Linked DNA regions of Homo sapiens. The protein of the gene in region 1 interacts with the protein of each later gene in a pairwise test. Each region holds a gene or a part of one and is shown in the gene's direction. Other genes may lie near its edges. The genes, in order: PECAM1, PCSK7, BOK, SPIRE1, WT1, THEM4 and SERBP1.

Region 1 (3,504 bases):
GACAGCCTCGGCCCTTTCCCTTCCTTCCATCTCAGGCCTCTTTGTTCCCCTCCAGCCCGCACCTCACTGCAGCTGCCTCACCTCAGGAGGTGACGGCTGCTCCATCTTCACCTAGAAAACAGTCATCTGGAGGGAACTCCCTCAACTTCCCGCCTGGGCCTGGCTGCAGGCTTATCAGCCTCTCCACCCATCCTCTCGGTTTCCCTCCCGGCCTCGGAGGACACATGCACCCTGCTCCTCAGCTGATGGGGGCCAGCCAGGCACTTAGGCTGAGACCCTTCCTCACCCCCAGGACCCCACGCCTACGTGCATTCAAGTCCCTCTCCCCTACCACCACTTCTAGAATCTCTATTTCTGCTTCTGGCTCTGTTCTCTCAGTGAATGGGAACTCTTTTTTTAGGAAAAAGAAAAATCACAAGCAGACACCCACCCCCACCGTTTATCTGGTGTCCCCCTATCTGGCCTTTCTAGTTTCCTTTCTCAGTCGAACCTCTCTGAAAGTTAGTTTATAATCTGTGCCTACCCACCTCACCTCTCAGACACGCCTCGCCTCCCAGCAGCCTGGCCTCAGGCCCCACTTCTCCGGCTGTTGGGTCTCCTCTTGCTGAGGGGTCACCAAGGACCACCTGATGCCAAATGCAACGGACACTTCCAGCCCTCGGCTCCCTGTACCCCTTTCCTGCCTTTGACTTTTGATCGTGCCCCAAAGCCTCGCTCCTTGACCTTTTCCATCCTCTTCCCTGCTTTGTCTCCTCACTCTCTAACAAACCCTCTTCCTTCTCCCCCATGGCTGACTTTGGACTTACTTTGTCTTCTCCTGGAGTCTGAACCCTGTCCTGGTCTCTGCGGGCTCCTGGTCTTATCCTCCCTGGAGACCAGCTCCCCTCTCAACACCTCCACATTCCCCCCTCCTCCCCTAAGTTCACACTCCTCCCACCTTCACAGTCCAGCCCTGGCCTCTGCCCTGAGCCTCCAGTTAACACAGGCTGACCTTTGATGTCTCCTCCCAGTCCTCCTACTGGCCCCTCACACGCAGCTGCACCACCATCACTTTGTCTTCCTTCCTTATCTTTTTCTGTTTGTTTGTTTGTTTTTGTAGAGACTGGGGTCTCATTTTGTTGCCCAGGCTGGTCTCAAACTCCTGGGCTGAAGCCATCCTCCTGCCTCGGCCTCCGAAAGTGCTGGGATAACAGATATGAGCCACCACACCCAGCTGCGTGTGGCATTTTCTATTTTAGTTTGGTGGCACACACATCCTCCTGGGAATCTAATCCAGGAAGTTTATCTTCCATTCTTTCAACCCCATATCCAATCAAACAAAGTCTTTTTTTAAATTGTGGTAAAATACAAATAATATAACATTTATTATTAATGACATTTAGTACATTCACGGTGTTGTGCAACCATCACCATTGTCTAATTCTAGAACATATTCTTTCTTTTTCTTTTTTTTTTTTTTTTGACAGAGTCTCACTCTTGTTGCCCAGGCTGGAGTGCAGTGGTTGGATCTCAGCTCACTGCAACCTTCACCTCCCAGATTCAAGCAATTCTCCTGCCTCACCCTCCTGAGTAGCTGCAATTACAGGCACGAACCACCATGCCCGGCTAATTTTTGTATTTTTAGTAGAGACAAGGTTTTGCCATGTTGGCCAGGCTATTCTCAAACTCCTGACCTTAAGTGATCCACCTGTCTTGGCCTCCCGAAGTGCTGGGATTCATTCTAGAACATTTTCAACACCCCAGAAACAAGTCCTGTTGAGTCCACTCAGGAGATCCCCAGCCTATCCTTCCCTCATCCCCACTGCACCCGCCTAGCTCAGGCCTCATCAGCTTTCACCTGAACCACTTCCAAGCTGTTTACTGGCCTTGGGTGCTGTCACACCCCTCCTGACACCCTCAGGACAGGGCCCAGCTTGTCAGCACAGCAGGCCAGCCCTCCATTCTGGCACGACAGACCCAGCCACCTGGCCTCTCTAGCCCCACACTCTGGTTTCTGTAATGGGCCATGCCCAGAAGGCACGGATTTCTCACACCCTCGTGTCCTGGGACACGCTGTTCTCTTACCTGGAGTACCCCACTGCCTGTCCTTGGCCTGGCAGGCTCAGTTCAGTGGTCACTTCCTTCAGACTCCTTGACCTCTCCTGGGCAGCCCTTCCTCTTGGTGCTTACTGATATCACTGGAGTCCAGCTATGTGGGCCCCAGCAACCTTTGCTGTTTGGGACAGCAAGGATGATTTCTTACTTACTCTGTCAGCCCAGCACCTGGCACAGGTTCTCGACACATGTCTCATTGGATGGGAACTTGAACTGAACTTGGAGATGCTTGAGATTCGGGTAGGAAGATGGCTCAGCATGCTCTCTGATGAGCACAGAAGTTCATCAGGGACTCTATGCTTCGTGGCTCCCAGTAATTTTCCTGACGAGGGTGGGCAGCCCCTCCTTCTCCTGCACCCTCCACTTTCTCTCTGAGTCATTTCCAGGTTGAGGGCCAGGGGGCTGGCTGACTGATGGTGCCGCATGTTTCCAGGGAGCACCACCATCCACTGATGAGTGGCCTTGAGGTCAAGGTCCCACTGTTTTTAGCATGTTGGGGTTTGGCACTGTGGTCACTGGCTGTTCCGTGGTGACTTTCCAAATTTAGATCCTTCTCCGTCAACCTTCATCTCCCCGGGTTGAAAAGATCTGACCTCTTTAGGCTGTCCCACAGCCCCACCCTTCATCACAATAGTCCTGAAACTTTTTGGGTTCAGTAAGGAAATCTGTGGGCCTTCTCTCCAGAAAAAGCACACATTTGCACACAATTGGAGGTAGTTGATGAGCCTCCTAACACCCACCCATGCACCTCCCAGGGGCTGTGTCCCCCAGGTTGTGAACAGTCACTCTGTGTAAATAGTGAGACCTACAGGCAGTAATTCAGTTTGGCTGTGCTTGGCTGGTTTATTTAGAAAGATGATAATGTTTTCCATATTATCAAAACAAGAATCAGGCAGAGACTTTTGAAGTTTGGTTGCGTGGTATATTTGTTACCTATTGCTGCATAACAATTTACCTAAAACTTACTGGCTTAAGATAACACAGATTTATTATCCTGAAGTTTCTGAGGGTCAGGAATGCAGGAGTGGCTGAGTTGGGTGGTGCTGGCACCGGGTCTCATTAGATTGCAGATAAATTGTTGGTCAGGGTTGCGGTTATCTGAAGGCTTGACTGAGTCTGGGGAATCTGCTTCCAAGCTCACTCCTGTGGCTATGGGCTGGAGGCCTTAGTTCCTCATCCTGGGTACCTTCCACAGGGCTGCTTATGCTATGACTGCTGGCATTCCCCAGAATGAGGGATCCCAGACAGGAGAGAGAGTGATCAGGATAAAAGCTGCATTGTCTTTTATTACCTGATGGAGTATTTTGTTGGTTAATGTTAACGTGGGAGGTGACCACGTGTAAGTGTGATGAGCAGAGGGCAAGGACCATTGGGGGGGGCATCTTGAAGGGCTTCTATAGCAAGGGAGGT
Region 2 (3,504 bases), on another chromosome or scaffold:
CTTTCATAGATCTGGACATCTGTCCCTTACTTAGCATCCTACGTCAGTCCCGTGTTAAAAGAAAACAAGGCGATTCCGCAGTCCCCCCGTTCCCTGGAGGTCCTGTGGAATGGTAAGTAATCAGCACAAAGGGGGTTAATCTTAGGCCTGAGGTTTGGGGCCGGGTGACAAGGAAGTTAAACTCGTCCTCCCTGCCAGATTCTACCCCCTTTCGGAGCTGAGCTCCAGCCAAACCTGTGGAGTTTTCTTTGACCATTTTAGGACATGTTACTGCTTCTGAGTTGGCTCCCCCAGCTGCTTAAACAAGACCTTTCTCCTGGGTTCCTAGTAGTGAAAAGGAGCAGCAGAGCAACTGAGGAGGAGGGCGGGTGGGAGGCATGGGACTGGGGCTTGGGGAGGTCAGGCGAGACCGGGGTGAGAGCTCAGAGAAGCTCCTGTGACTTCCATGCTAAGATCTTGCCAGAGAACTCTGGTCAGTCCTCGGGTGTCTGGATGAAGTAAAGGAGTTAGGCATTTCTTCCTTTGATTCTCTGGCTTACCTAATAGAGAGAGTCAGATGTGGTCTGCTGGGGATGGACAGAGGGTTTGTAGAAGTCTCCTAGGCTTTAGTGACCCATCCTCTGCCTCCGCCTCCATGGTGGCCAGCATGAACCAGGATTGTCTGAAGGGGTTGTATCCTCTAAGCCAGCGACCTGGTTTTATGTTGAGCGAAGAGGCGGACGCCCTCCCTAGAGGAGAGTGCAGCTGGATCAGGATGCTTGTGCAGAGGATGCCCTGTCTGCACATTTACCAGCGTTTTCCCTACCCCCAGCTCCTTGGGGGATTCTTTTTCCTGGAGTCATTTACTACTTTTTGCAAAGGAAGTATGCTATGCTTAGTGCCCAAACCAAAACTGTCTTCACTTTTTCTGTCCTCCTAGAAAGTGATCAATTGAGAGCCATGGCAGGAGAAGGAATGGCCAGAGAAGGTTACTCAGAAGGGAGGATGAGGGGTGGCTTCCCTCAGGTGAAGGTTTCACAGAGAAGAATTGAGTTTTCTCCTCCTAACCACATCCAGCACTTGCCCAATTTCCCTCAATGTGGAATGAAACCCCTGGGCCAGTCACTGCATTTCCCATAAAAGGAATGTTATCTTGGAAAGGGCATAAAGCGTCAGCCAAGTCAGAGAAGTTCAGAAACATTTCCAGGAATGCAGTTCATTTGGAAGCCCCTGGCTTTGCACTTGCGTGTCTTAGAGATAGTGTGCCTTCAACTTTACCTTCTATCCAGGGCTATTTCCTGTTGCATCTGTCAAATGAGGGCAGTGACTTAAAAGAGTAATATGGTCTTCCCAGCTTCGTCATCCTCTGCTTCCTGCTGACCAGGGGACGTTGCCACGGAATGTCTACCCTAGGCATTGAGGCATCTGGCAACTGCTTGCTTGTCACTAAAAAGTAAGAGAAAGAAGGACAGATTGCCTGGGTGGAGAAGAGTGGGAGGTGGCCTAGTGGAGAAAGCAGGATTAAGAGAAGGGAGGGAAAGATTTAGGGAGTTTGGCTAATGGAGCCCTTTACCTGTTGGAAGGGCAGCAAGCAAAAGTTTTACCAGAGTTTTCCCTACCCCCAGCTCCTTGGGGGATTTTTTGTTTTGTTTCATTTTTGTTTTTGTTTTTTTGCCTTGAGTAATTTTGACATGCAGAGTTATTCACAACTTTTTGCAAAGTACTATTTTCATTGGCTTTTCAGAGCCAGTGAAGTTGCCTTCTCCTCCAACATGACCACATTTTCCTCTGAGCAGACAAAAACAGAACAAATAAGTTTGTGGGCTTGCTTGGAGGTTGAAAGAAATAAGTCCAGTTAAAATGAGAGTTGAGCCAGGTGCCCTGGCTCATGCCTGTAATCCCAGCACTTTGGGAACTTTGGGAGGCAGATAACCTGAGGTCAGGAGTTTGAGACCAACCTGACCAACATGGTGATACCCCATCTCCACTAAAAATACAAAATTAGCTGGGTGTGGTGGCTCATGCCTGTAGTCCCAGCTACTTGGGAGGCTGAGGCAGGAGAACCCGGGAGGCAGAGGTTGCAGTGAGCTGAGATCGCACCATTGCACTCCAGCCTGGGCAAGAAGAGGGAAACTCCATCTCAAAAAAAAAAAAAAAAAAAAAAATTGAGAGTTGAGCAGCTCAGTCCCAGGAAGTCAAGAAACCCCTTCTACAGCCAAGTTATGGTTGTTTTCCACCAGGACCTGGTTGATTCAGTGTCTGGGGGCTGGAAAGTGAACTTTTTATAAAGCAGAGGGAGCTGAACATCCCTGAGATAGAAGAGGAGGCTAAATACCTCTAAGACTCTAGAGTAGCATTGTCCCAAAGAATTTTCTGCAATGATGGAACTGTTCCATGTCCATGCTGCTCAGTTCAGTGGTCACTAGTCATCTGAGTCTATTGAACATTTAAAACATGACCAGTTGGCCGGGCATGGTGGCTCACACCTGTAATCCCTTTGGGAAGCTGAGGCAGGAGCATTGTTTACGCTCATGAGTTCAAGACCAGCCTGAACAACATAGTGAGACCCTATTTCTACAAAAAATAAAATTAGCCAGGTGTGGTGGTGCATGCCTCCTGGGAGGCTGAGACAGGAGGATTCCTTGAGCCCAGGATGCCAAGGCTGCAGTAAGCCATGGTTGCACTACTGCACTCTCCATCCTGGGTGACAGAGCGAGACCTTGTCTCAAAAATAATAATAGGCTAGGCGTGGTAGCTCATACCTAGCCTATAATCCCAGCACTTTGGGAGGCCAAGGGCAGGGGCGGATCACTTGAGGTCAGGAGTTCAAGACCAGCCTGGCCAACAGAGTGAAACCTCGACTCTACTAAAAAAAAAAAAAAAAACGATACAAAAATTGGCTGGGCACGGTGGCTCACGCCTGTAATCCCAGCACTTTGGGAGGCTGAGGCGGGTGGATCACAAGGTCAGGAGATCGAGACCATCCTGGCTAACACGGTGAAACCCCATCTCTACTACAAATACAAAAAAATTAGCCAGGCGTGGTGGTGGGTGCCTGTAGTCCCAGCTACTCGGGAGGCTGAGGCAGGAGAATGGCGTGAACCAGGGAGGCGGAGCTTGCAGTGAGCCAAGATCGTGCCACTGCACTCCAGCCTAGACAACAGAGCGAGACTCCATCTCAAAAAAAAAAAGTATATATATATATATATATATATATACACACACACACACACAAATTAGCCAGGCATGGTGGCACGTGCCTGTAGTCCCAGCTATTCAAGAGGTTGAGGCAGGGAAATTGCTTGAACCTGGGAGGCAGAAGTTGCAGTGAGCCAAGATTGTGCCATTGCACTCCAGCCTGGATGACAGAGCAAGACTCCATCTCAAATAATAATAATAAGGCTAGTATGACTAAGGAGCTAAATTTTAATTTTGTTATACTTCATTTTAATTTAGATAGCCATGTGTGGCTAAGGGCTACCATATTGAGAAGTGCTGCTAAAGAGCAAGACTGATTTTTCTCTC
Region 3 (2,948 bases), on another chromosome or scaffold:
AGGCCACAGGTCCAGGCTGCAGGGAAAAGCCTTCATGTATTAGCAGGAAGTGAAGGGAATAAGAGAATTGGACGTTCATTCACTTCCCCAGAAGGAACTTCAGAGTCCAGGGAGTCCGTGGGCTTCCGGAAACGCAGTCCCTGCTGTTGTTCCAGGCAGAGTCTGAATGAAGCTGGGTTTGCCCCTTCCTGGTAGCCCAGGCTCCAAGGCCCCACAGGAGGATGACGGCGGCATACCTGTAGCCCCTGGGGGGCAGCAGGCAGGTGGCCGAGGGGAGCTGGCACCCTGGTCTGGATGTCTGGAGCCCCAGCGAGGGCCATGAAGGCCTCTCTCCTGCTCGGCAGGGGCCCTCCGGCCGGCCTGCCTGGCTGCCATCTGTCCCCACCTCCCGTGCCTCCTGGCCCTTCACACTGTCTGAATGTGCACGGCATCGGGTCTGGTCTTGTGTTGGAGCCTTCAGTCCAGGCCACAGACCTCCTTCCCGAACAGTCTCCTGCATTCCCTTCATGCAATTTTGCTGATATTCTGGTGCACGGTGCTGGGGGGCCTGGCGGTGCTGGGGGCCTGGCGGTGCTGGCTCTGCTTTCTAACGGTCTCCCTCTTCCCTCCCAGACTGATGTCCTCAAGTGTGTGGTCAGCACAGACCCTGGCCTCCGCTCCCACTGGCTGGTGGCTGCACTCTGCAGCTTCGGCCGCTTCCTGAAGGCTGCCTTCTTCGTGCTGCTGCCAGAGAGATGAGCTGCCCACCTGGCAGTGGCCGCAGCCTGGCCCTCTGGGCCCAACGCAGGAGGCCCTCAGCACCCGAACACATCTTCCTCCTCCCCACCCGAGCCTGGAGCACTCTAACCCTCGGAGACCCCCTAAGCCCCGTTCCTCCGCAGACCCAGGCCCTCCGGAAGGGGTGAGTGGGGAGGGGCTTTCCTGAGCCTGGAGCTGGGCTTTGGGGCAGCCTGCGACCCTCCCCGCTTGTGTCCCTTCTCCTGTGATCTCTGTGTTTTCCCTTTTCTTTCTGGGGCCAGGAAGTCAGGGTCAACTCCCAGGCCTCAGATGCAGGGGCCCAGAACACCTGCTCTCACCTGAGCCCCAGGTGAAGGGGCCCGGGAACACCTGCTCTCACCTGAGCCCCAGGTGAAGGGGCCCGGGAACACCTGCTCTCACCTGAACCCCAGGTGAAGGGGCCCGGAACACCTGCTCTCACCTGAGCCCCAGGTGAAGGGGCCCGGAACACCTGCTCTCACCTGAGCCCCAGGTGAAGGGGCCCGGGAACACCTGCTCTCACCTGAGCCCCAGGTGAAGGGGCCCGGGAACACCTGCTCTCACCTGAACCCCAGGTGAAGGGGCCCAGAACACCTGCTCTCACCTGAGCCCCAGGTGAAGGGGCCCGGAACACCTGCTCTCACCTGAGCCCCAGGTGAAGGGGCCCGGGAACACCTGCTCTCACCTGAGCCCCTGGTGAAGGGGCCCGGAACACTTGCTCTCACCTGAGCCCCAGGTGAAGGGGCCCGGAACACCTGCTCTCACCTGAGCCCCCGGTGAAGGGGCCCGGAACACTTGCTCTCACCTGAGCCCCAGGTGAAGGGGCCCGGAACACCTCCTCTCACCTGAGCCCCAGGTGAAGGGGCCCGGAACACCTCCTGTCACCTGAGCCCCAGGTGAAGGGGCCCGGGAACACCTCTCACCTGAACCCGGGGGTCCCATCCCAGGAAGAAGGGCCATCTCAGGACATGAGTCCTCAGGGGCCCTGCACATTCAATCTGAAGGTGACCCTGGCCTGGCTGAAGCTGGAAGAGCTGTGGGGACTCAGCCTGTAAACAGAGCGTAAGGTTCACATGCTGGTTGCTTAATCCGTTTCTGGAGGAAGAGTATGACACCCACTTGTGATGGGGTCCTTGTGCGGTGGGGACCGGGGCCGGCGGGCTCCAGGCCAGCACACCTAACCCATGGATGTGGAACCTACGGCCGAGAAGGAATGTTGCATGAGTCGGATCCCAGTCCATTGTCAGTGGAGGGTGAGGGTGACCCCATCTGCTATTTTTGTGCTCATCCTCATACAACCATTTGGGGATGTGCCTATTAGGGCTCCGTAAGAACTCAGATGCCTGGGAAGCCCAGCCCCTCAGGTGCCCCCACACACAGCCTTCCCTTGACGCCTACATTTCTAGGCACATGTGAGGCATCTTTCCTGGAGCCCCGAGCCAGCCCTGTCCCTCCCCAGTGCAGCATGGCACTCAGGAGATACAGGCTGGACATGGGGCAGTCGTTCTGGGGAGGCCTGGCCTAGCAGCCACCCACCTGAGCCCTCCCGGCCAGGCTTCGTGCTGGGGTGGGCCATGTGCCAGGACAGGAGGGTCCCGGCGGAAAGCCAGCCCCGGACTCATCGTGACATTGAGATCCCACTGGAGGGTAGGGGTGGTAATAAACTTCTCCAAACGATCGTTGTCATTTTAGACAGAATGTCACTGTGTGTGTGTTAAATAGCTTCTACCTATACACAACATGGTAAGAGGTGCGGAGGGTTTGCTTGAAAATAATTGAGGGTGGGGAGTGGCGAGAGGGTGGGGATGGGAGGGTTCCTGGAATTGGGTCTTTATCCTGATTAGATGTAAAGGCACTAATGCTGATTTCCAGTAGTAAAAAGAACACCGATAGTCCATAGTGTGATGTGGCAATAGAGGTATGCATAGTATCACCACTGGGTGCTCCTAATTAAATACTTGCAGAAGGCAGGGTTCTCGGTGGCTTTTGAACACTTTCATCAAACTAGAGTATAATGGGCCAGGACCAGTAGCTCACACCTGTCATCCCAGCACTTTGGGAGGCAGGAGGATGGCTTGAGGCCAGGAGTTCAAGACCAGCCTAGGCAACATAACAAGATCCCATCTCTAAAAAATAAAATTAGTCAAGCACGGTGGCCTGCACCTGTGGTTCCAGCTACTCTGGAGGCTGAG
Region 4 (3,052 bases), on another chromosome or scaffold:
GCATTCTAGTGCAAAACATCTGAAGAGCTGTACACCCACAAGGGTGACTATTTCCCCTGAGTGGCCGTGTTGTCCCAGTGCCCTGGTTCAGTGTCTCCTGAGTGGATGACAGGTCTTCATTCTCTATCTTGAATGTATTATGGTTACTAATAGTTTTATAATGGAGGTCTAAGAATTAAAGTTGTGTGGGAGTTTCAGGACAAAGGAAGGCTAAAAGTTTGTCAAGACGTTGAGCGTATTTTGGTTACCTATGAGAAGGGTTGTGACAGTGTACAGTGGCAGCTGTTGGCCACGCTGCAGAAATGAGCTGGAGCTCATGGGTTTTCAGCTACATTTTTCATAACTTTGTAGTACATCCATCTTGAGTAAATTAAGCCACAATTTGGTACCTAGGGTCTCAAACTAAAATTTATTTTTATAAATGAATTTTAAAAGAAAAAATATCTACTTCTTTTAAAGTTAGAAGAAAATTAACCTGCTGACAGGCAACATTTTTGGGGTGCTTTCTGCACTAGTTTTCCTTGTAAATGATTTGAGTGAGTAGGTTTGGTTTCTGACGAAAGTAGACTGGAGGGTAGCATTGTATGCCTCAAATGTCTCAGTGTGTTTGGCTCATACGTGGGCTATACTGTATTATTTTGGTATGCTTACAAATGACTAACCAATCAAATTGTCATTAATGTTTGGAAAATCTGTTAATGCACATGCACAATAATTTCCTGAAAGCCATAGGACATGTCTGTAGTCAGCACCACGATAGCACCGTTTCATGAAAGGCATGGCGGCTGCATTTCATACCACATCAAAATACAGTAACATTTCTATACTAAATTAACAGTAATACCTCAAAACTGCTCCGGTAGTAGTTTTTAATGGATTGAAATTTACAGTTTAGTAAAAGGCTTAAAATTACTTATACTTATGAAATAAACTTTACCAGTTGACTAAAATAATGCATGTTAACAGTTGGTCTGTATTTGCATGTAAAAGTGGGCCACCAGAGAACCCTTATTGATTACTTAAGTGTTTACATTATTTTAAAGACTCCTGTTTAAGAGCTTTCAGAATTGTACTGGGTGAATCTCATTTATAAAACTTCCTAAGAGACTATCTGAACTCTATACTCCAGACAGTTAGGTGGGAGTATAAATCTACCCCTTTTGATGACCCCAGGCTTGAGTTTTTAAAATGACTACCCAGAAGGGCACAAGGGGGAAGGAAATGGTATTTGTATATGTATATAAATATGCACCTAGGAGAATGTGCTTTTTAAAATAATGACTACTGTTTTTATTAAAACATAAGAAACTACACCCCCAAAATAAGACTTTCATTCACATTCACAAAGCAAACATCTAGTACATGTCTTTCACTTCACTTTATGATAGTGTATTGGATGATTTGGGCATTACGATCACCTCTTACCACAGCACAGAACATACATTCTTCAACAGCATTAACGGAGTTTGCCAAGTGCATTAAAGAGGTCACGTGGAGGGTACGTTCATATGAAACAATCTGCAGAAAGTGGGGTAAGAAAGGGCACATGGCACAGTTAAAGTTGTAGAAATCAAATTACTATCATTTTTTGTTGCCAAAACAAAGTCTTACATTTAACCCCCCTTTCTACCACCCCCCTCCACACTTCACGTCAGCTACATAGTTTCCACAGGGTAATTCACTAAGAGCTTGTGGAGCTTGGTTTTAAAATCCTTAGCCTGGTCTGACTTTAGGCATAGCTTCCAGTTCTTCCTTCCGTGTCCTGGTTTCTTGTTCAGTTTTACTTCTAATCCAACAACAAAAGAAATGTCTGGCTGGTCTCAGCTAGAGTCTGATGTGTCTTAGAGCATGTGTGCGTATCTGAACCATCATCCCTGCTCTCATCTCAGCTCCCTCCAGGCCTGAGCACCGGTTCCTTTTGTCCCATACGTCATGAAGTCACACTATTGGGAAACCTGTGCTTCCCTCTCCATGGCTTAACTCCCTGTCAGTGTCGGAGTGTATAAGAATGCTTGTAAATACTGTAATATATTTATTAATATTTGAAAGGCATTCATTCAGTGGACAGTGGGAATTAACTCTCCCAAGGCAAGTGAAAATGAATGATTGACGTACGTTGATTTAACAATCTTACTAGATTTTAATTCTTAAGGATTTCAAATGAAACCAGAAGGTGGTTATGTAAGAGGCTTAAAATGATCTTATGTTTAAAGAGATTCTGTTATTAGCACCATGAACTCGTACTATGAAATTTTTAAGCCTTTTATTTTTCTAACTATATTACTGTAGGACTGGATATTAGGTGTCATATAGGAAACACAAAAGTTTATTGCTGTTTGCTAAAGCAAAATAGCAGAAAATTTTGTATATGCAAAACTGTTGAAGGACCATAGAGAAATGTGTACTACTGACGGGGCTTTTACTAGGCTTCCTGCGTGTGTAAAAGTCGAGGTATTGCTGGCATTCAGGGTGACATGATGGTACTAAATGTTTTCCATTAAAGTCTTCTATTTTAAAATTTAGAGAAAAATAAAATGGCTTTCCATCAGACTTTCTGTGTTGAGTTGCTATCGTAAGACGGTGATGTCTTTTGGTAATTAGCTGTCAGAAATCACCTCAATTGGGAAGGCAGGGTACTTTTATAAGCAGCCTGTGATCTTTGAAGAAATACAGTCTAGGCCGGGCATGGTGGTTCACGCCTGTAATCCCAGCACTTTGGGAGGCTGAGGCAGACGGATCACCTGAGGTCAGGAGTTCAAGCGATTCTCGTGCCTCAGCCTCCCAAGTACCTGGGATTACAAGTGCCCGCCACCATGCCCAGCTAATTTTTGTATTTTTGTACATGGTGGCCAACATAGTGAAACCCCATCTCTACTAAAAATACAGAAATTAGCCAGGCGTGGTGGTGTGCTCCTGTAATCCCAGCTACTGGGGAGGCAAGGCACAAGAATCGCTTGAACCCGGCAGGTGGAGATTGCAGTGAGCTGAGATTGTGCCACTGTACTCCAGCCTGGGTGACAGAGCAAGACTCCGCCTCAAAAAAAAAAAAAAA
Region 5 (3,504 bases), on another chromosome or scaffold:
TTGCTGAGGAGGCAGAAGCTGTATTATAAGGATGAAGCACAAAGTGTGAACAATTTGTTCTGTTCAATCCTACATAAGAAAAAAATGAGAAGAGTTTTCATTGGTCCGTTACTTACATCTTAGAAAGGATTTCTGAAATAAAAATGTATTTCTTTTTTTTTTTTTTTTTGATATGGAGTCCCACTCTGTCACCCAGGCTGGAGTGCAGTGGCACGATCTTGGCTCACTGGAACCTCTGCCTCCTGGGTTCAAGTGATTCTCCTGCCTCAGCCTCCTGAGTAGCTGGGATTACAGGCATCTGCCACCATACCTGGTTAATTTTTGTATTTTTGGTAGAGACAGGTTTTCGCCATGTTGGCCAGGCTGGTCTTGAACACCTGACCTCAGGCGATCCGCCACACTTGGCCTCCCAAAGTGCTGAGATTACAGGTATGAGCTGCTGCGCCCTGACTAAAAATGTATTTCTTGGCCTGGCATGGTGGCTCACGCCTATAATCCCAGCACTTTGGGAGGCTGAGGTGGGTGGATCACTTGAGCTCAGGAGTTTGAGATCAGCTTGGACAATGTGGTGAAAACCTTTCTCTACAAAAAATACAAAAAAATTAGCCAGACGTGGTGGCACATGCCTGTAACCCCAGCTACTTGGAATGCTGAGGTGGGCGGATTGCTTGAGCTTGGGAGGCGGAGGTTGCAGTGAGCCAAGATCAGGCCACTGCATTCCAGCCTGGGCGATAGAGTGAGACCCTTCCACAAAACAAAACAAAACAAACAAACACAATATATATGTATATTTCTCGAATATTAACTTTATTCAGGGAGCTGTTATAAAAAGGGCTAGATGGCCCAACAGATAGTTCCACAAAAGAACAACTGTTTTGCAGAGCAAAAATTACAATTAGCTAATTGCCTACCATCTTCTCTCACACTGTAGAACATACTGTAAATCCACGAATTTCCGCTTCCATTTTGTGAACTGGACATTTATCTAAGGATGTATATAAACAGTATTGGGTGCCGTGTGAGGGGCTGTACATGTTTCCTCTTCTGATCTGATCTTACAACACCCCCAGGACACTATGGCCACATCCAATTTTTTAGCTGAGGAGGTGGAGAGATTAAGCTATCTAACCAAGGTCACATAGTAAGTGAGTGGCAGAGCCATGTTGGAATCAGTTCTGTCTGACTCCAGGACCTGGGCCCTAGATTAGAGCTTCTTAAATGGGTGGAAACCTTTTAGACTGTGACCACAGTTAGAAATACCCTTTACAGTGAGATCCCATATACACACATGTGCACACACATACACACACACAACATAGATTTTCACTGAGCAATACTCTTATGACATGCTCTGCATGCTGACTTTTTCTCTCTATCCTATTTCATTTTTTAAAATGCTGATTGTGATGTACTAGATTGATTTTACAACCCACTGATGTGTCATGACCCACAGTTTGCCTCACTTTTAGCATTCAAACATGGTGACACCTTGGCTGTCTCCTCCAAACTCATGAACAGCCCAGAACTGGATTTAGTTGAATCTGTAATTCCAGTAGAAAGTTTGGCCTTTCCCCAGGGGAGACCAATCTGGGTTGGGGTCATTGTTCTTTGTGATACTGGATTTACTTTCTTTTGCCATGGTATGAAAAGTATTAATATGGAGAATACATTTGAGAAAAGGTATTCCATGAAGACAAATTCAGACACATAACTTTTTGTGTTCATTCATAACTAGTGTCTTGACACTGTTTGAAATCAATGTTAAGAAAAATCATGTGACAAGGTTGATCTATTACAGGAAAAACTGGTGATTTGGTTCATGTTTTAGAGAAGAAAGATGTAATTTCCATATCACTCATAAAAAAGAGGCATTATCAATTTTTTATTAAAAGATCATGCACCTCAGACTAAACCCCACTAAATGCTGGTTCGGGTCTTCTTTCCTTGAAAATGTTTCGTTTCAAAAAAGTGGCTTCACAAAGAATAGGTTTGTTTCCTTGTATCCCAAGCAAGTCCACGGAGACATCTTTCATTAGATGTCAGGGAGCAGTGTTACAATGGGTGGGGATAGGATTTTATAAAGAACATGGGCAGATGAAATGAAAACTTGCTGTGTTAGAGGTGGGATATACTTGTGTGACTGAACCGCTCCTTTCTCCTCCTTCTCCCTTTACTCATTTTCTAATTTCTGCATACCCACTGGGATCACAGCTACTTTTATGACCTCCAATGGGAGAATGTATTTCAATTTAAGTCAGTGAGAAGGTACTTTACGGAAAGTACTTTCTTCTCCCTCACCCCCAAACAAATGAAATTAGATTTTTAAAGTGGGTCCCTGGGAGAAAACGTTGCTGGGGAATCTTTCTGAGTATGAGTCCACCATTTTGAAGCCTTCTATTGATGGTGCCTTGTGTTATCTGCTTTCTATTTCTTTGAAAACATTTTCTGTGTGTTCTCAATGGCTGCTGATTTCCGAACAAGCCTCTCCTACCCTGTTGGCCTCTGTTTTGTCTCTTCTGAAGAAAATATCCTGCAAAATGGAGAAACACATCAACCTTGACTGTGATCCAAGTTATTAAAACAAGGAAGAAGTTATTCTCTGGGGACTCGGGTAGGGGGAGTGGGAAATCGAACACAATAGAAATGTGAAAGGAGTGCTCAGCAAAATGAATGTCCCTTTGCTGGTCCAAGAAGTTCACAGGCTGTTGGGAACACACAGTATTCAACCTGTGGATGCTTGAGAGGAAAAACAAAAAAGACTCAACAATGAGTGATGTGTGGTGAAAACAAAGCTGTGCGTTTTGGTAGGGCCAAGGCTGTCGAATCTGGAGAAAATCCCCGCTAGACATGGTCTCATCCCTGAGAACCTGTGCCAAAAGAGATAGCTGTCTTCTCTGGCTGGGAGCTCCAATACACAGCCCAGCACCTTCCCTCGCGGGCTCGTGAACATAAGGTATCCGTCCAAGAGATTTACTTCTTGGAAATAGATAGCTTGCTTTTAAGTGGCTCCCGGAGCCTGAGATGCAAAGTGAAGGTGGGGAGCCTCAGTTCTGTGAATATCAGCATTGCCGAGCCTACTCCATCTCCACCCCCAGCAACAAGTTATTAATTTTCCACCGTTTAAAGTTTCATTTAATGCCATTTAAAGAGTTTTTTTTCTTTATTATTGCCTTGCATTGGACTTGGCCTGAGGTCTGTTAACCCTGCCAACCAGAACGAAGAATGGGACTCCAGGGTTTGATAAAGATGGAGACTCGTGACTTAGCTCTGTGTCCCTCTCACTTAGTGTGGACTGATTCGGAAGCTTCTTTCCTTTGCTTCTCACTTTTCTGCTTCTTCTTTCTCCTCCCTGGCTGTTGGCCTTTTCTATCCTTTTATTTTTGGACATGCATTTGATGAATGTATTGAATTTTTTTATTATGTAAGTAATGTGTATAAATTATAGAACAGTTAGAAAATACAACTACGCAGAGAAGGAAATTAAAACTCCCCCCAAAAGCCTAG
Region 6 (3,504 bases), on another chromosome or scaffold:
TAGAGTTTTTTGTTTGTTTGTTTTTGAGACAGAATCTCACTCTGTTGCCCGGACTGGAGTGCAGTGGTGCAGTCTTGGCTCACTGCAACCTCCACCTCCCTGGTTCAAGCAACTCTTGTTCCTCAGCCTCCCAAGTAGCTGAGACCACAGGCACACACCATCTCGCATGGCTAATTTTTGTATTTTTTGTAGAGATAGGGTTTCACCATGTTGGCCAGGCTGGTCTCAAACTCCTGACCTCAAGTGATCCACCCGCCTTGGCACCCCCAAAGTTCTGGGACTGCAGGTGTGCCACCACGCCTCAGCTTCCATAGAGTTTAGTTTTGATCTGTTTTGTTTAATTTTTATTTTTTAATTTTATTTTTCCATAAGTTATTCAGGTACAGGTGGTATTTGGTTACATGAGTAAGTTCTTTACACTAGTGATTTGTGAGATATTGGTGCACCCATCACCTGAGCATTATACACTGCACCATATTTATAGTCTTTTATCCCTTATCCCCCTCCCATTCTTCCCCCCAAGTCCCCAAAGTCCATTGTATCATTCTTATGCCTTTGCGTCCTCATAGCTTAGCTCTCCCATATAATTGAGAACATACAATGTTTGGTTTTCCATTCCTGAGTTACTTCACTTAGAATAATAGTCTCCAGTCTCATCCAGGTCACTGGGAATTTGGGTTGGTTCCACGATTTTGTGTTGGGCATTTGGGTTGGTTCCATGATTTGCAATTGGGGATGATGCTGCTATAAACATGCATGTGCAAGTATCTTTTTCGAATAATGACTTCTTTTCCACACTGTTTTCCATAGCAGCTATACTAGTTTACATTCCCACCAGCAGTGTAGAAATGTTCCTTGATCACTGCATCCACAGCAACATCTACTGTTTTTTGAGTTTTTTTATTATGGCAATTCTTGCAGGAGTAAGGTGGTATCGCATTGTGGTTTTGTCTGTTTGTGCTCTTTCAGACTTTTTGAGGTAGGCATTTAGGGCTATGAACTTTCCTCTTAGCACTGCCTTAGCTGTATCCCAGAGGTTTTGATAGGCTGTGTCATTATTGTCATTCAATCTGAAGAATTTTTTAAATTTCCATCTTGATTTCATTTTTGACCCAGTGCTCATTCAGGAGCATGGTTTTTTTGTTTTTTTTTTTTGTTTGTTTTTTTCTGAGACAGAGTTTCGCTCTTGTTGCCCAGGCTGGAGTGCAGTGGCACAATCTCAGCTCACTGCAACCTCTGCCTCCTGGGTTCAGGCAGTTCTCCTGCCTCGGTCTCCTGAGTAGCTGGGATTACAGGCGCATGCCACCACTCCTGGCTGATTTTTGTATTTTTAGTAGAGACTGGGTTTTGCCGTGTTAGTCAGGCTGATCTCGAACTCCTGACTTCAGGTGATCCTCCCGCCTCAGCCTCCCAAAGTGCTGGGATTACAGGCATGAGCCACAGCGCCTGGCCTATTTGCATGGTTTTGAAGGTTCCTTTTTGGAGTTGATTTCCAGTTTTATTCCACTATGGTCTGAGAGAGTGCTTGATATAATTTCAATTTTCTTAAATTTATGGAGGCTTGTTTATGGCCTATCATGATCTATCTTGGAGAAAGTTCCATGCACTGTTGAATAGAATGTGTATTCTGTGGTTGTTGGATGAAATGTTCTGTATGTATCTGTTAAGTCCATTTGTTCCAAGGTATAGTTTAAATCCATTGTTTATTTGTTGACTTTCTGTCTTGATGACTTGTCTAGTGCTATCTGCCAAGACCAGCTCAGTTATGGAGACCCTAACCCAGCAGTGCTAGAGAAATTAAAGACACACAGAAATATAGGGTGTAGAGTGGGAAATCAGGGGTCTCACAGCCTTCAGAGCTGAGAGCCCCTAACAGAGATTTACCCACATATTTATTGACAGCAAGCCAGTGATAAACATTGTTTCTATAGATTATAGATTTACTAAAAGTATTCCTTAGGGGAAACAAAGGGATGGGCCAAAACAAAGGGATGGGCTCTGGCTAGTTATCTGCAGCAGGAACATGTCCTTAAGGCACAGATTGCTCATGCTATTGTTTGTGGCTTAGGAACACCTTTAAGCGGTTTTCTGCCCTGGTTGGGCCAGGTGTTCCTTGCCCTTATTCCGGTAAACCCACAACCTTCAGCATGGGCATCATGGCCATCACGAATATGTCACAGTGCTGCAGAGATTTTGTTTATGGCCAGTTTTGGGGCCAGTTTATGGCCAGATTTGGGGGCCTATCCCCAGCAGCTGTCAGTGGAGTATTGAAGTCCCCCACTATTATTTTGTTGCTGTCTATCTCATTTCTTAGGTCTGTTAGTAATTGTTTTATAAATTTGGGAGCTCCAGTGTTAGGTGCATATATGTTTAGGATTGTGATATTTTCCTTTTGGACAAGGCCTTTTACCATTGTATAATGTCCCTCTTTGTCTTTTTTGACTGCTGTTGCTTTAAAGTTTGTTTTGTCTGATGTAAGAATAGCTACCTATCTCTGCTTGCTTTTGGTGTCCATTTGCATGAAATGCCTTTTTCCACCCTTTAAGTTTATTTGAGTCCTTATGTGCTAGGTGAGTCTCTTGAAGACAGCATATAGTTGGTTTGTGAGTTCTTATCCATTCTGCGGTTCTGTGTCTTTTAAGTGGAGCACTTAGGCCATTTACATTCAATGTTATTATTGAAATGTGAGGTGCCATTGTGTTCATTGTACTCTTTGTTGCCTGTGTACTGTGGGGTTTTTTTTATTTTTTGTTTTTGCTTTTTAACTTGTATTTTTGTTTTATAGGTCCTGTGTGATTTATGCTTTAAAGAGGTTCTGTTTTGATGGGTTTCTGGGATTTGTTTCAAGATTTAGAGCTCCTTTTAGCAGTTCTTGTAATGGTGGCTTGATAATGGCGAATTCTCTCAGTATTTGTTTGTCTGAAAAGGACTGTATCTTTCGTTCATATATGATACTTAGTTTCACTGGATACAGAATTCTTGGCTGATAATTGTTTTGTTTGAGGAGGCTGAAGATAGGGCCCCAATCCCTTCTGGCTTGTAGGGTTTCTGCTGAGAAATCTGCTGTTAAGCTGATAGATTTTCCTTTATAGGTTGCCTGGTGCTTCTTTCTCACAGCTCTTAAGATTCTTTCCTTTGTCTTAGCTTTGGATAACCTGATGACAATGTGTCTGGGTGCAGATCTTTTTGTGATGAATTTCCCAGGTGCTCTTTGTGCTTCTTGTATTTGCATGTCTAGATCTCTAGCAAGACCAGGGAAGTTTTCCTCGATTATTCCCCCAAATATGTTTTCCAAGCTTTTAGAATTGTCCTCTTCCTCAGGAAGACCAATTATTCTTAGGTTTGGTAGTTTAACAAAATCCCAGACTTCTTGGAGGCTTTGTTCATATTTTCTTGTTCTTTTTCTTTCTCTTTGTTGGATTAGGTTAATTTGCATTTCTAAAAGTGTGTCCAAAATTTCCTGAATTTTTTATTGTTTTTTCTTTAAGCTATTTCCTTGAATAT
Region 7 (3,051 bases), on another chromosome or scaffold:
TGTTATTTTTCTAGTTGCCAGAGATGGTTGCACTGAAATAGAACAGGGAGTTGCATACAAAGCCTAAATGTGTATTGGATTTCGAAAATACTAGGTTGGTGCAATTGGTTTTGTACCAACCTAACATGTCTTTAGGAAAGTACCATCATGTGGAAGGAAACAACAGGTGTTAAAAGGTTCAAAGGAATGAGAAATAGGAAGTTACTAGAACCTAACTGATGTTGACCTTAGAGGTAAGATTATTCAGGTATATTAGTGGACCTCCAGTCCAATGGTATAGCAAATTCCAGGGATCTCAGGTGCATGCAATTTTACTTTCTAAAGTAAACACTTAGAAAATAGATTATAACCCAGACGTTTTGGATTATACTGAGACAAATATGTAAATAAGTTTTAGCAAGTCTGAACATGTACCAGCGAGATCTTCAGGTTAACTAAGAAAAGCCCAGAAACTTCATTATTTACTGTGCTTTGTATGGCATAACTGGTAACAAGGCAGTAAAATGATACATATTTGAACTGGACCATAGTAATTAAATGATTTATCAATATCATTTGCAAGATAATTGTCAGGTTGAGTTAATAGTAAGTGGCAGCTTCCCAGAAATTTGGGTTATTTGGCCTAAGCTGTGCCCTGGGATTACCTCTTCATCTTCCTTGACTTTTAAGTTCAAATTTGGAGGTTATGTGAAGTGATTGAAATAAATCTTTCAGGCTGAGGAAGTCGGTAATTTCAAGAATATAGTGAAAACAAGGTTGTAATCTAAACATGAGAAGCTTAAGTTTAGGAAATGGTTAGAATATAAATTGCTAAAGCCATCATGATTTTGGCCACAGATGAAAATATGAACACTGGAAATGAGCGCCATTTAAATGAGATGCTGTATGTAAGCCAGGGGTCAGCAAAGTTCAGCCTGTGACCTGGTGTGTGTGGGGGTGTGTGTGTGTGTGTGTGTGTGTGTGTGTGTGTCCGTGTCCCTGAGTTAAGAATGGTTTTTAGGCTTGTATAGGATTAAAAAAAAAAAAAACCCACAGAAAAATGTAGGCAGCCCAGCATAAGATACCGCCTTTCACAGAAATGTTTGCTGACCCCGGAACTGTCACTCTCGGGTTACAAGAGTTTGTTTCTTTGAAACAGTCTGGCTCTGTCACCCAGGCTGGAGTGCAGTGGCATGATCTCAGGTCACTGCAGCCTCCACCTCCCGGGTTCAAGCAATTCTGCCTCAGCCTCCTGAGTAGCTGGGATTACAGGTGTGCACCACCACAGACAGCTAATTTTACAGGTGTACACCACCACACCCAAGAATCACTTGAACCCGGGAGGTGGGGGTTGCAGTGAGCCAAGATCATAGCACTGTACTCCAGTCTGGGTGACACACTGTCTGAAAAATAAAAGTTTAGTTCTAGGTACAAATTAAGTGGTCTACCCAACAGGAAGCTGTGAAATTAGAAGTAATTTTAAAGCATACTTTACACCTCTATATAATCAAAGTAAGGGCAAGATAAAACTTGTTAGTAAAACATGTTTTATTATTTTTTAGATAGGTAGCCTGCAACATAAAATATATTTTGAAAGCTGTTAAGGGGTGTATAATCTGTTAAAAAATACCATGATTAGTATTTCACATTTAGTGACTCAGATCCCTTTGTGTAAGTCCTTTGCGTTGTGCAAAGAGGTTTTTCTATGAGATGAGAATTATGAACACTTCATATAGGTAAATTCCATAGGTTGAGCTGGGGCAGAAATTAATGGCTCCTGGAGATTGCATCTTTTTTTTTTTTTTTTTGAGCTTAGAATTCCCATTTGGACAGAATTTAGCTTTTGTGCTGTTGATTACTTCTGTACTAAACTGGTAGCCAATTGTTCACTTCTAAATGGAAGGGAAAAAGTTACCCACACAAGTTAGAAAATGATTTACCGAATTATTTTTTTGAGTTAGTATGTATATACTGTTTTAAATCAGTAATGTTTGTTCCTTTTGCTGCCCATTTGGGAGTATGTGGCAATTCCTAGTGCTCTTGTATGACATTACTCTTCTTGAGACTTGTATATGCAAGAAAGTATATATAAAAGATGCCTGGTGGTAACTTTGTATCTGAGTTCTGATTCATTATGGACTTTTAGAAATCTATTTAGATAATTGGTTCATACTAGGTGCTCAATTACTCTGACCTTGTGTGGCTTAATCCTTAAATAGTTGCTTTAGGTGTTACTGGGTGGAAGCATGGAAAGTGAAGGGCTAATATTAAGGATTTTTATGTATTACTGAGTAGGGAAAGTGGGAAGTAGCTTATCTTTGGACAGTTGTATTACTTTGCACTAATCACCTTGTTTGCAGTTGTAGCTGATTCAGTTCTAGATTTTAGGACCAAAAAGATCTCTAATTTAAAGAAACAGTTTTTATATACCTAGAATGAAGATTCTGTTTAAAGCGGTTTTGGTTAACTTGGTTCTTGACATTTGCCTAAAATTTTGTTGGATTGGGACTAAAATGTTCTATTAGCCAATGAATAACGTCCAAGTAAATTTTTGTTTTATTTTGGGAACTTTGTATATTGAATTCTTTGTTTTACACGTAACCCACAAAGAAATGTTGCTTCATATGGCAGCTGCACTCAGAGTACTAAGATAAGCATGTGTTTAGACATTTTCTAGACATTTTCAGAGTGCTCCGACAGCTGGGGTTCTTTTGGAAAGAAATGGACTGAAAGTGGGTGGGTTTTGTATTTTTCCCATTACATGACGACATGTTTAGGCCTTCATGATTGGTGTGAACTAAACACATATCTTTGTTTAGAGATAAGACAATTGGTTTGTGTACTTACCCTGAAAATTCATAATTTCGTGTTTTTTGTTTGTTTGTTTTTGAGATGAGTCTCACTCTGTTGCCCAGGCTGGAGTGCAGTGGCGCGATCTCGGTTTACTGCAACCTCTGCCTCCCGGGTTCAAGTAATTCTCCTGACTCAACCTCCTGAGTAGCTAGAATTATAGGCGCCCGCCACCACGCCCGGCTAATTTTTTGTATTTTTAGTAGAGACGGGGATTCACTA

Evidence for each region.
Region 2: the proteins of PECAM1 (region 1) and PCSK7 interact in binary tests that used the Homo sapiens proteins (3 or more experiments, as listed by UniProt).
Region 3: the proteins of PECAM1 (region 1) and BOK interact in binary tests that used the Homo sapiens proteins (3 or more experiments, as listed by UniProt).
Region 4: the proteins of PECAM1 (region 1) and SPIRE1 interact in binary tests that used the Homo sapiens proteins (3 or more experiments, as listed by UniProt).
Region 5: the proteins of PECAM1 (region 1) and WT1 interact in binary tests that used the Homo sapiens proteins (3 or more experiments, as listed by UniProt).
Region 6: the proteins of PECAM1 (region 1) and THEM4 interact in binary tests that used the Homo sapiens proteins (3 or more experiments, as listed by UniProt).
Region 7: the proteins of PECAM1 (region 1) and SERBP1 interact in binary tests that used the Homo sapiens proteins (3 or more experiments, as listed by UniProt).

What each region holds. Positions count from the first base shown.
Region 1 is NC_000017.11:64,384,361-64,387,864, reverse strand, and holds part of PECAM1 (platelet endothelial cell adhesion molecule precursor), read left to right. Parts: intron 1-3,504. UniProt on the Homo sapiens protein: Cell adhesion molecule which is required for leukocyte transendothelial migration (TEM) under most inflammatory conditions.
Region 2 is NC_000011.10:117,215,074-117,218,577, reverse strand, and holds part of PCSK7 (proprotein convertase subtilisin/kexin type 7 preproprotein), read left to right. Parts: intron 1-9; coding exon 10-112; intron 113-1,333; exon of another isoform or gene 1,334-1,432; intron 1,433-3,504. UniProt on the Homo sapiens protein: Serine endoprotease that processes various proproteins by cleavage at paired basic amino acids, recognizing the RXXX[KR]R consensus motif. Likely functions in the constitutive secretory pathway.
Region 3 is NC_000002.12:241,571,685-241,574,632, forward strand, and holds the end of BOK (bcl-2-related ovarian killer protein), read left to right. Parts: intron 1-612; coding exon 613-738; 3' UTR 739-2,447; downstream 2,448-2,948.
Region 4 is NC_000018.10:12,446,010-12,449,061, reverse strand, and holds the end of SPIRE1 (protein spire homolog 1), read left to right. Parts: 3' UTR 1-2,550; downstream 2,551-3,052.
Region 5 is NC_000011.10:32,411,538-32,415,041, reverse strand, and holds part of WT1 (Wilms tumor protein), read left to right. Parts: intron 1-3,504. UniProt on the Homo sapiens protein: Transcription factor that plays an important role in cellular development and cell survival. Recognizes and binds to the DNA sequence 5'-GCG(T/G)GGGCG-3'. Regulates the expression of numerous target genes, including EPO.
Region 6 is NC_000001.11:151,899,509-151,903,012, reverse strand, and holds part of THEM4 (acyl-coenzyme A thioesterase THEM4), read left to right. Parts: intron 1-3,504. UniProt on the Homo sapiens protein: Has acyl-CoA thioesterase activity towards medium and long-chain (C14 to C18) fatty acyl-CoA substrates, and probably plays a role in mitochondrial fatty acid metabolism. Plays a role in the apoptotic process, possibly via its regulation of AKT1 activity.
Region 7 is NC_000001.11:67,407,306-67,410,356, reverse strand, and holds the end of SERBP1 (SERPINE1 mRNA-binding protein 1), read left to right. Parts: 3' UTR 1-2,547; downstream 2,548-3,051. UniProt on the Homo sapiens protein: Ribosome-binding protein that promotes ribosome hibernation, a process during which ribosomes are stabilized in an inactive state and preserved from proteasomal degradation.